Regions from separate parts of the Homo sapiens genome. Here region 2 is reported to be linked to region 1. Evidence: microRNA targets listed by miRTarBase, many of them from high-throughput screens and not tested one by one. Region 1 holds a microRNA gene; the other region holds the end of a gene's coding sequence.

The links. The annotated mature microRNA hsa-miR-3678-3p reads CUGCAGAGUUUGUACGGACCGG and lies in region 1 at 2,849-2,870, shown strand. An mRNA with a match to its seed (bases 2 to 7 or 8) in the 3' UTR can be bound and repressed. Matches are read on the target gene's strand: a 7mer-m8 pairs with bases 2 to 8, a 7mer-A1 pairs with bases 2 to 7 and ends in A, and an 8mer does both.
Region 2: the mRNA of E2F1 is a reported target of hsa-miR-3678-3p. Seed matches in the 3' UTR shown: 7mer-m8 at 4,773-4,779.

The regions. Positions count from the first base shown.
Region 1 is chr17:75,403,289-75,408,288 of GRCh38, forward strand. It overlaps MIR3678 (microRNA 3678), which reads left to right and starts at 2,781; the gene lies at 2,781-2,874. GRB2 (growth factor receptor bound protein 2) reads right to left here and starts at 2,390. Exons shown (of 6, transcript NM_002086.5): 1 at 2,201-2,390. RefSeq lists a silencer at 2,448-2,627.
Region 2 is chr20:33,671,910-33,676,988 of GRCh38, forward strand. It overlaps E2F1 (E2F transcription factor 1), which reads right to left. Exons shown (of 7, transcript NM_005225.3): 7 at 3,568-5,070. The coding sequence ends at 4,823. NECAB3 (N-terminal EF-hand calcium binding protein 3) reads right to left here and starts at 2,519. Exons shown (of 12, transcript NM_031232.4): 1 at 2,315-2,519; 2 at 489-513. The coding sequence starts at 2,443. RefSeq lists enhancers at 182-731, 1,280-1,827, 1,828-2,375, 3,046-3,546 and a silencer at 2,230-2,859.

The sequences.
Region 1 (5,000 bases):
TCATTTCTCCAAAATCCATTCCTCTTCTGTTGTATGTGTAACAATTAGAACTCTGATGGACAACATGCAACATGATAACAGCAATTACTGAGAAGAATCTCTAAGTACCATCAACCAGTAGTATTTAAAACCCAGCAAGCCTCTCAAATCTGAATAACTTGCTGACGAAGTAAAGTGCCTCAAACATTTAAACGTTTGAGTTCAGGCCGGGCGCAGTGGCTCATGTCTGTAATCCCAAGGCTGAGATGGGCAGATCACTTGAGGTCAGGAATTCGAGACCAGCCTGGCCAACATGGTGAAACTCTGTCTTTACAAAAATACAAAAATTAGCCAGGTGTGGTGGTGAGCACCTGTAATCCCAGCTACTCGGGAGTGCGAGGCAGGAGAATCGCTTAAACCCAGGAGGTGGAAGCTGCAGTGAGCCGAGATCGCACCACTGCACTCCAGCCTGGGCGACAGAGCGAGACTCCGTCTCAAAAAAATAAAATAAATAAATAAATGCTTGTGTTTAGTAGAAGAAAGCTGATTATAAGAATTAACTCTGGCCGGGCGCGGTGGCTCACGCCTGTAATCCCAACACTTTGGGAGGCCAAGGCGGGTGGATTACCTGAGGTCAAGAGTTCAAGACCAACCTGGGCAACACAGTGAAACCCCATCTCTACTAAAAATACAAAATTCGCTGGACATGGTGGTGGGCGCCTGTGATCCCAGCTACTCGGGAGGCTGAGGCAGGAGAATCGCTTGAACCCAGGAGGCAGAGTTGCAGTGAGCCCATATAGCACCATTGCACTCCAGCCTGGGCAAAAAGAGCAAAACTCTGCCTAAAAAAAAAAAGTCACTGAGCTGACCCAATCTTCCTATTATAAAGACATACTAGAAGAAAACATAAGCAGGCACAGAAGCATAATCTTAAAAGAAAAAGAGTAAAAGACAAAAATAATACAAGCAAACCACACTTGCGACCTAGTGGCAGGACTGATTTCTTAGGGATGAATTCAATCTTTTGAGCCTCCCCGTTCTCAGAGAGGGGACTTCAGCCTCCCACGGCTCTCTAGCAACCCTTCTGGCTGACTGCAGGGAACGCAGGGGACGCGCAAAAGTAAAGGAACGAAAGCAAGGAAAGAGAGTCTCTTCCCGAGGAAAAAGACGGAATCTTGAAATGAGAGAAAACGAACAGCACGAAAGGGAAGAAACCTCGAAAAATTACGCCAGAGTGGGGACTACAAGGAGGAAGGGGAAGTACATTAGAAAAAAAGGGGGGGGTGGGGGGAGGAAGGGGCAAATGACTTGCATTACACAAGCATTTCGTGTCCCTAGTGGAAAGGACAGAAGCAGATAGAGAAGGAAGGAAATAACTGGAGAAAGAGGAGTAAGAAAGCCAAAATAGACTAATGCTAATTTCTCTCATGTGTCTGACATTTCGGAAAGTCAACAGCATCAAAAAGAGACAGACCTCAAGTGCACTTCAGTCCCCTGCAAACTGCACTTTCACAGCGTTTGAAGCCAGCCTTGAAAAACTTTCTAAACAAGCCATAACTCATGTGTGGCTTACAATCATAGAGAGGGCGCGCTGCAAATGAAAATTACCAGCGCCCGCTCTCGCCGCAATCCTTCCTCGGTGCAGTCCAACCTGCTACTGCTGAATTTTTCTTGACAAATATTTTTCAAATAGTTTTTTTTTTTAAGTGTCAGAATAAAGGTATCTCCCCCGGCTCCAGCAGCAAACGTTCCACCCCAAAGTGGATTCCCGCACAAAATTAAGCCCAAAGACGCCAGGAGATGGTGACGTGGTTGCCGTGCAGGTCGAAGGCACATCAATCACCACAGCTGCAGCCCACACCAGTCCCCCGCCGCCAGGCTCGGGTAGACTGACTCGGTCGGCGTTCGGCCCGCCTGGGCTTCCCGGGCCCCTTCCGTGCAAACCCTCCCGATGAAGGCAGGGGACCTCGCCAGAGAACCCCGACCTCTTCCCCCGGACTGCCCAGAGCCAAGAGCCGGAGGAGGACGGTCCCCAGGAAGGAAGCGCCCCAAAAGGGGAAACGTAGAGTCCGGAGCCCCGGGGATTGCGCTCCACGTCCCAAGCCTCGCCGCCCCGACGCGAACCCCGGGGCCGGTCCCGGTTCCCCCGGGGCCCACTCCCGCTGTAGAGCCAAGAGGAAAAGGCACGAGAGAGGCGCCGAGCGCAGCCTCCCGTACTCACCGTGGCGCAGCTGCTCCGCTCAGCGTCCGGCCCGCCCCTCCACAACGCTGCGAGCGGCCGGCGACCCCAAGGCTGCTCTGCGAGGGCAGCGCTTGCTCCCGCCGCCGTCACCGCCACAGGCACAGACTCTGCCACAGCCGCCGCCGCCGCTGCCGCCGCCCGGTCGCCGAAGCAGCAATACCTCCTGGCTTCCGCTCCCCGTCGGTGTCCCGCGAGAACTTCTCCACGAGGCCCCGCCCCGCCCCCGCGAGACTTCCCCCGGCGGAAAAGGCCCAGAGCGCAAGCGCTCCTCCTCAGCCGGGCCCCTGCGGGTAGGGAACCAGCTAGGTGTCAGGGCGCATGCGCCAGACCTCCCCGCAGCAGGTGGCCTCCGCACGGCTCCGCCCCCGGGTCGCCGTAACCCTCTCGGTGCCAGAGCGGGTAAATGACAGCTTAGCCCTGAAGGACTCTTCCCCCGTCTAATCACTTTATTTTCCTCTTCTACCAAACCTAGGCAGTTGGATGGGTAGGGGCTTGGGGGAGGAAGAGATCTTCCAGAATGAAGCACTCCAAATAGAGGACCAGGTCTTAAAATATTTGAGAATCCGGTCCGTACAAACTCTGCTGTGTTGAATGATTGGTGAGTTTGTTTGCTCATTGATTGAATCACTGCAGAGTTTGTACGGACCGGATTCTCCAATATAGGCCGAACACTGTGCTGGGGATAGAACAGAAATCTTGGCCCTTAAGGAATTCACGGTCTAGGAAGTAGAAGAAAAATAAACAAATAATGCCATAAGTACTGTTATAATTATTTGGAGTTTGCTGAGGAAGCTAAAAAAATGGAGGGGGTACTGCTACACTGCCCATTGCAGAAGAGCCTTCACAGATGTGATGCGGCGATGTCTGATCTGAGTCTTGGAGGATGAGTAGGAATTTGCCAGGCAGAGAAGCCAGAGTAAGGGCATTTCAGGGAAAGGGAATGGCACGTAAGTACAGAGGCTAAGTACAGAGGAACGGAGGCGTGAGAGAGAAAGTCGTGTTCTGTGCAGTGCTAAGTAGTTCAATTCCTGTATGAGGCCGGTGAGTACGGGGGAGTGGCAGAAGATGAGGCTTGGAGAAATAATTCTTATTTTTCAGTTCCCAAAGCTCTTCCAATTAAAGGATAGAACACAACACACCTAGCGTTACTGTGCCTTCTGGAAGCCAACAAAATAGCGCTGAGGTGAGAATAACCAAGCATCTGATTCTATAGAGAAAAGAAGCCCATTGAAACACAGAAAATGAATTGTGCTTTCACCAAGTATTTATTGAGCATCACCTGTGTGCAAGGGGCTCTGCAGGGTCAAAGACCAACCAGATGAAGCCCCTGCTTTCAGTGCTTTGTAATCTAGAGTTGCCTAATCTGTAAGACAAGCAGTTGGCCCCAAGTGCCACTGAACTACACATAGGGATGGCTGAGGAGGGAGCCAGTACTTGGTGCTGAGCTAATCAAGAAGGATTTGGTTTGAACGGCAAAGTGAAAGCAGGGAGGAAAGAGGAAAGAGTAATGGAATCAGCCTTTTGTTTTTTTTTTTTTTTTTTTTTTTTGAGACGGAGTTTTGCTCTTGTTGCCCAGGCTGGAGTGCAATGGTGCGCGATCTTGGCTCACCGCAAGCTCCGCCTCCCGGGTTCAAGGGATTCTCCTGCCTCAGCCTCCCGAGTAGCTGGGATTACAGGCATGTGCCACCACACCCAGCTAATTTTGTATTTCTAGTAGAGATGGGGTTTCTCCATGTTGGTCAGGCTGGTCTCAAACTCCTGACCTCAGGTGATCCGCCCACCTTGGCCTCCCAAAGTGCTGGGATTACAGGCGTGAGCCACCATGCCTGTTTTTTTGGTTTTTTTTTTTTTTTTGAGACTTGCACTGTTGCCCAGGCTGGAGTGGAGTGCAGTGGCATGATTTTGGCTCACTGCAACTTCCGCCTCCTGGGTTCAAGCATTCTCTCACCTCAGCCTCTCAAGTAGCTGAGATTACAGCAGCCTGCCACCACACCCAGCTAATTTTTGTATTTTTAATAGAGACAGGGTTTCGCCATGTTGGCCAGGCTGGTCTCGAACTCCTGACCTCAGGTGATCCACCTGCCTCAGCCTCTCAAAGTGCTGGGATTACAGATGTGAGCCAACACTCCTGGCCATCAACCAATGTTTTTGATTAGTCCAAGCCCCAGTAATTGGGGGGAAGAGTGATGAGAGAGAGGGGCCAAAATGCAAAATGCATGGCTTAGGTGTCATAGTCAAGTGATGGGCAACCTCTGAAGGTTTCTGAGCAGGAGGTGTCTGATATGAGGTGAAAATAAGAAAAGGACCCTCTATTTACCACTTGATGCATACTTAAGTCATAGCGCCTCCACAGGGTGGGTAATATCCCCATTTTACAGACTTGGAAACTAAGCCTTAGAGAGGTTAGTAATTTACCCAAGGAAGCCAAAATATAGTAGACCTAAGATTTGGACTAAGGCCTGTCTTGTTCTAAAATCCTCATTTTTTTCCCGCACTATGCCACTTTGTTCTAAAATAGCAGTCAGAAAAAAATAGAAATGGAAGGGAGGGACTTAGCTGCTAAGCAGAGAGGAAGACATGAGGGAAGAATTGCAGTTTTTTGTTTTGAGTGGGCCTGGATAACAGGGAGAACACAGAAATTTGCCAGTCAAGAGGCATAGCTGACTGGAGGGGGCAGGCACAGAGAACAGGGAAGGGCAGGTGAGGAGATGATTGTAAGGGTGAAGGGAATTTTTCCCTTCCACTCTGACAGTTTGAGTCTGCTGAAATAAACTGGCAA
Region 2 (5,079 bases), not on the chromosome of region 1:
TCTCCAAAAAGGCCTCATCTCCATTACCTCACTCTTCCAAGTGCCTCACACAAGGAGCCTGGGATTAAATGCTGCAAAGACCCAAGTTCGAGCCTATCAATTAAAGGCTGTGTGACCTTAGGCAACTTGCTTCACCTCTCTGGCCCTCTGCTCCTTTATGAAATAGGGTGAATTCCAATCTAGCTGGTGGTTGTGAGGACAACAGAGGGCCACGTACAGGAAGTGCCCATCACCATGCCAGGGTGCTGTGTGAAAGTCAGCCCCTATCTCCAGTCCGTGGCCAAACCACATTCTCTCCACTCTCCATCCTGCCAAACTTGGCTGAGAACAGCACTTCCTCTGGGAAGTGCCTTGATTGATTCTCCTGTTTTGGGCCCCCAAGATTTGTCTCAACTCTTGACTTCCCACCCAACCTCCCAACTCTCCCTGGGCCTCCTGGATGCCTCCCACCCTGCCCCACTGTGGGACCCAGGGGAAGCCACACTCACCATTCTTGTCTGCTCTGCGGAAAACCTAGAGGACAAAGGGACATAGAGAGAACTGTGAGTGCCACCTGGGAAGCCAGAGGCCCCCACTCAACCCGACAGGGTCCCAGCTGGCCGACCTACCCCCTGCCTCGCCTTTCCTCCCGCCCAGCCTGGTCCCAAACCACCTGCCCAGCTCAGCCCTGCAGGAGCTTTTCCTGCAAGCGGGGCACAGGAAGAGCACGCAGCGGGTGCCACCTCTGCTCACTTCTCCTGCAGGGCCTGGCCTCGTGGGGGGTGCTCCTGGCCAGTCCCCTGCGTCCCCACCTCCCACACCCAGAGTGCAGCCCAAGTTCTATCTGATACATCAGCCCCTGGCACAGTTCCAGCTTGAGGAAGGTTGAGGAGATGGGCCAGGTTGTGGCCCAGGAATCTTGCACAGCCGTCCTAGACCTGAGCCCCGAGCTCTGCTGTGTGGCCATGGTCTACCCCAGCTGCCCTCTCTGAGCTGTTTCCTTGCGTGCTGTTGAAAACCAACAGCAGGCAGTGGCTACTCTGTCTCTGCAGGCGCCTGAGTTACCCACTAGCAAATAGATCAGGAGCAGCTGGGGTTAACTCTTTCAGGGCTGGGGCTTCCTATGGGGCTGACTCTGAGGACCTTCGGCAGGCGTGTGTGTACACACACACGTCCAAGGGGGAGTGGGGGTGGCAGAAGGCAAGTTCGGCAGATTTCATTTATGGAGAAGTGGAGATGAAGAGCAACAGAGGCAGAGAGGAGCAGAGTCAAGACAGGTCCCCGTCTCTCTTAGTGACCTGCTCCCAGGTCACCCAAAGCAGCCCAGCAAAGGGGAGACTGGCAGGCCTGGCAAGCAGGGGTGGGCCAAGCCTGGGCCGAGAGCCCCCATGAACTCCAGGTCCTGAACGCCAGCCCCCTCCAGGGTCCTGTTTTGTCAGGGTCAGTGGGGCTCAGGAAAGACTCTAACCTCTAGCCTAACTCAGAGAAGGTCTGCCACTGGCTGAGGGGCACGCAGCAAGCCAGGGAGGCCCAGGTAGGGTAGATGGAGATCTTGGGAGTGGGCAGGGGTGCTAAGCTGGGAATGGGGACATCTGGGGTCACCCTATTGTATCCCTGCCTCCATGACTGACCTGAGACATATCCCCTCAGGCCTTGGTTTTCCTACTTGGGAAGAAGGAGGGTCAGGTCCCTTCCAGCCAGGGCTGTGGTCAAGGTGCTGAGTCACTAGGGGCAGTGGGGAGGGGGTGGGAGACAGCTTTGCCTCCCTCTGGAGTTGGGGCATGAGGGGGCCAGGACAGAGCCGAGCACAGCGGTGAACGGTGGAGAAAGGGCTCAGGGCCGTGGCTGGTGCCCATGGTGGCCGCAGGGCCACCCATGGCCCCATGGGAGGGTGACTCTGAGCAGCCCTTACCAACTGTAGGACTCTGCTGCCCTGGAGTGGGGCCTGAAGAACTCTGGGGGCGGCACTAGAGTCAGGAGTGAGGGGCCCTTGCGTTTCCAGGCTCCCCTTCCCCAGTCAGCCCAGCCTGGAGCTGCCACAGAGTGGGGTGACCGCTGCTGTGATTGTCGCCAGCCCCCCGCCAACACCAGACACACAAATGGGGTGGGCTGAGGGGTGGGAGGCAGCAGGGGCAGTGACACTGGAGCAGGGACAAGAGGAGACATGGAGAGACAGAACAGGTCACACAAGGGCAGAAAGGTCAAGAGAAAACAGCAGGGCCAGAGAGAGGGGAAGAGACCCAGAAACAGCGGCGGGGCCCGAACAACCCCGGAGGGTGAGACTAACAGAGACTCGGGTAGGGAGACACCGCGAGCAGAGCCCGCGCCCACTCACGTCCTGGAAGAGCGTGTGTCCGGCGGGCCCCGGGTCGGGCGCGAGCTGGGGGTGCCGCGGGGTCTGGGGCTGGGGCTGGGGCGCGGGCGGCCGGAGCAGGCACACGGTGAGCAGCCCCGCGCACGCCATGGCGCCGCCACCCGCTCGGGCTCGGCTGCGGTTGCTGCCGACCCTGGACGCCGCGGCGGACTCGGTGTGGCTAGAGGCCGCCCCTTGGCGCCGGCGCCGACGCGCGGGCTCAGGCCCCGCCCCCGCCCCGCCCCCGCGGACGCCGGGTTCCCTCGCCTCAAGGTCCAACTCCAGCGCCGCGGGCCTCCGCGCTTCCGCGGCCACGGCGGAGGGGGAGGCGCCCGAGGGCTCCGGTCCCGCGACGGCCTGTCGGGAGCAGAACCTAGGGGCTGCGGGCCTACCCAGAGGGACAGGATGACCAAGCCAGTGCCGAGGTCAGGGTGACACAAGTGGGTAAAACCCACCAGGACTTCACCTTTTGGGGCGTCTGTATCCTCATCTACAAAAATGGTACTGGCAGACACCCTATGCAATTGTTGGGACTCATTCAATGTCAAGTGCTTACAACGGGGGCTGGCGCAGAGGAAGCCCACAGGTCCGTGCGGCCGAATCCCAGGCATCCCGACGCCCGCCCTCTCTGGCACTAAGCGCAGCCCTTTCCCCTCCCCTCCGTGACTCTGGCCCTCCCTTCAACCCGTTCTCCACACAGCAGCCGGGGGGAGCTTTTAAGATGCGAAAGAGGAGGTGTCACTTCGGTCTCCAGTGACTCCTTGGCCCCTGAATAAAGCTTAAGACTGAACGCCCCACTCCAGGAGCACCACTCTGACCCTCACCTCAGGACCGCAGCCACACTGCTTTCTCTCCGGTCCTCTATCCCGCTCCCTCCTGCCCAAGGCCTTTGCCCATCGTGTCCTCTGCTTGGTGTTTTCTTCCTCTGGTTAACTCCTACTTATTTTACAGCGCTCAGCTTAAGCACCACCCATTCCAGAACGCCTTTCCCGATTTTCTCATTTATGCAGATCTCCTCTTTCAGACCCTGAGAGCACCATGAAAGGAGGTAACACCCGTGTCCCCAGAACTGTTAAATACCTGACACAGAACCAGCCCACTGTATTTGTTACATGTTTACTAATGTCCAGAAACGTCTGGAAGGAAGACAGCAAACTGAGCAGAGTGGCCTCTGGGGCTGGGGAAAGGAGAGGCCACTCATTACTCTGCACTTCGGGCAGCACTGAATAGCATTCTTGGCTTTCTACAACAAAAACCTTTACTGGATCTGCTTTTGAGTTAGGACCAAAACAGCGAGGAAGCTGACCTTTCTTCGAGTTATGAGGCTCAAATCAAATCGGGCACGGACAGGGAGAAGGGAAGTGGAGAATGGGCATTTCCCCAGCAACCTTGGCCTCTCCCGCCCCGAAATGTTCCCAACAGAGTCCCAAAACCCGGCCCAAACGTCATCAAAATATTTATTAAAACCAAAGCAGGAGGGAACAGAGCTGTTAGGAAGCAAATCAAAGTGCAGATTGGAGGGTGGGGCAGAGCAGTGGGGAGGCAGGCGCTTCAGACACTGCAGGAGGGACCACAGGGTCTGGGCTGGGGGAGGCCTTCACCACCCCTCCTGCCCACATCAGTGAAGGTCCCCCACTCACCTCTCCCATCTCATATCCATCCTGGGGGGCAGCTGGGGCCCTGAACTGGCCCCCTGGAGAGGGCCCACCCCACCATCTGACCACCCATGGCTGTCAGTCAGTCTGTCTCCCTCCCTCACTTTCCCAATAAATAAATCACCCAGGCCTCAGTTCCTTCAGTATGGGGCAGAAGAACAGCTCAGGGACCCCTGCCCTTGCTCAAGGGTAGAGGGAGTTGGGGTATCAACCCCACACCCCTCCTCCCCTTTGCTGATTCCCCAGGCTCACCAAAGAGGCCTCGATAAATAAATAACGCTCCATTAAAGCTTCAATCAGAAAAAACCTTTAAGACAGAAGTGCTCTCACCGTCCTACACGCCCAGCCAGCCAAAGCCTCCCCACCTGGCCTGGTCAGAGCACCAGATTCTGGGAGCAGGCACTGCCCTGGGCCTTGTGGGACCCCCAGAGCAAAAGGGCCGAAAGTGCAGTTAGAGCCCCCCCACGCGCACACATGGACTCATGCACACACATGTGGACACACTGGGGCGTGTCTGCAGTGCACACACAGAGGTGTATGTTCACCTTCATTCCCCGGTACATGCACACACACATGCTCACACACATTCACCCCCGGTACACACGTGTGGGTGTAGGCTGCATGCACATACACACCACACAGACTCCTTCCCTTCCTGGCTTGCTCAGCCTCCTAGCGGTAGCCAGACCCCAGAGCTAGAAGCTTCTGGAGACAGAGGAGAGGGGTATAAATTAAATGTTTCCAAACAGGCTGGGAGGACGGCCAGGGACAGGGGGCTCCAGGGCTGCAGAGACAAGGTGAGCATCTCTGGAAACCCTGGTCCCTCCAAGCCCTGTCAGAAATCCAGGGGGGTGAGGTCCCCAAAGTCACAGTCGAAGAGGTCTCTGATGCCCTCGCCCTCCTCGAGGCCGAAGTGGTAGTCGAGGGCCTCGTGGGGTGGGGAAAGGCTGATGAACTCCTCAGGGAGGAGGCCGGAGAAGTCCTCCCGCACATGCTCCAGGAGCGAGTCGGCCGCCACCAGCGGGGACAGGCGGTCCTCGTCCACGGGAGCCCGCAGGCTGCCCATCCGGGACAACAGCGGTTCTGGGGAGA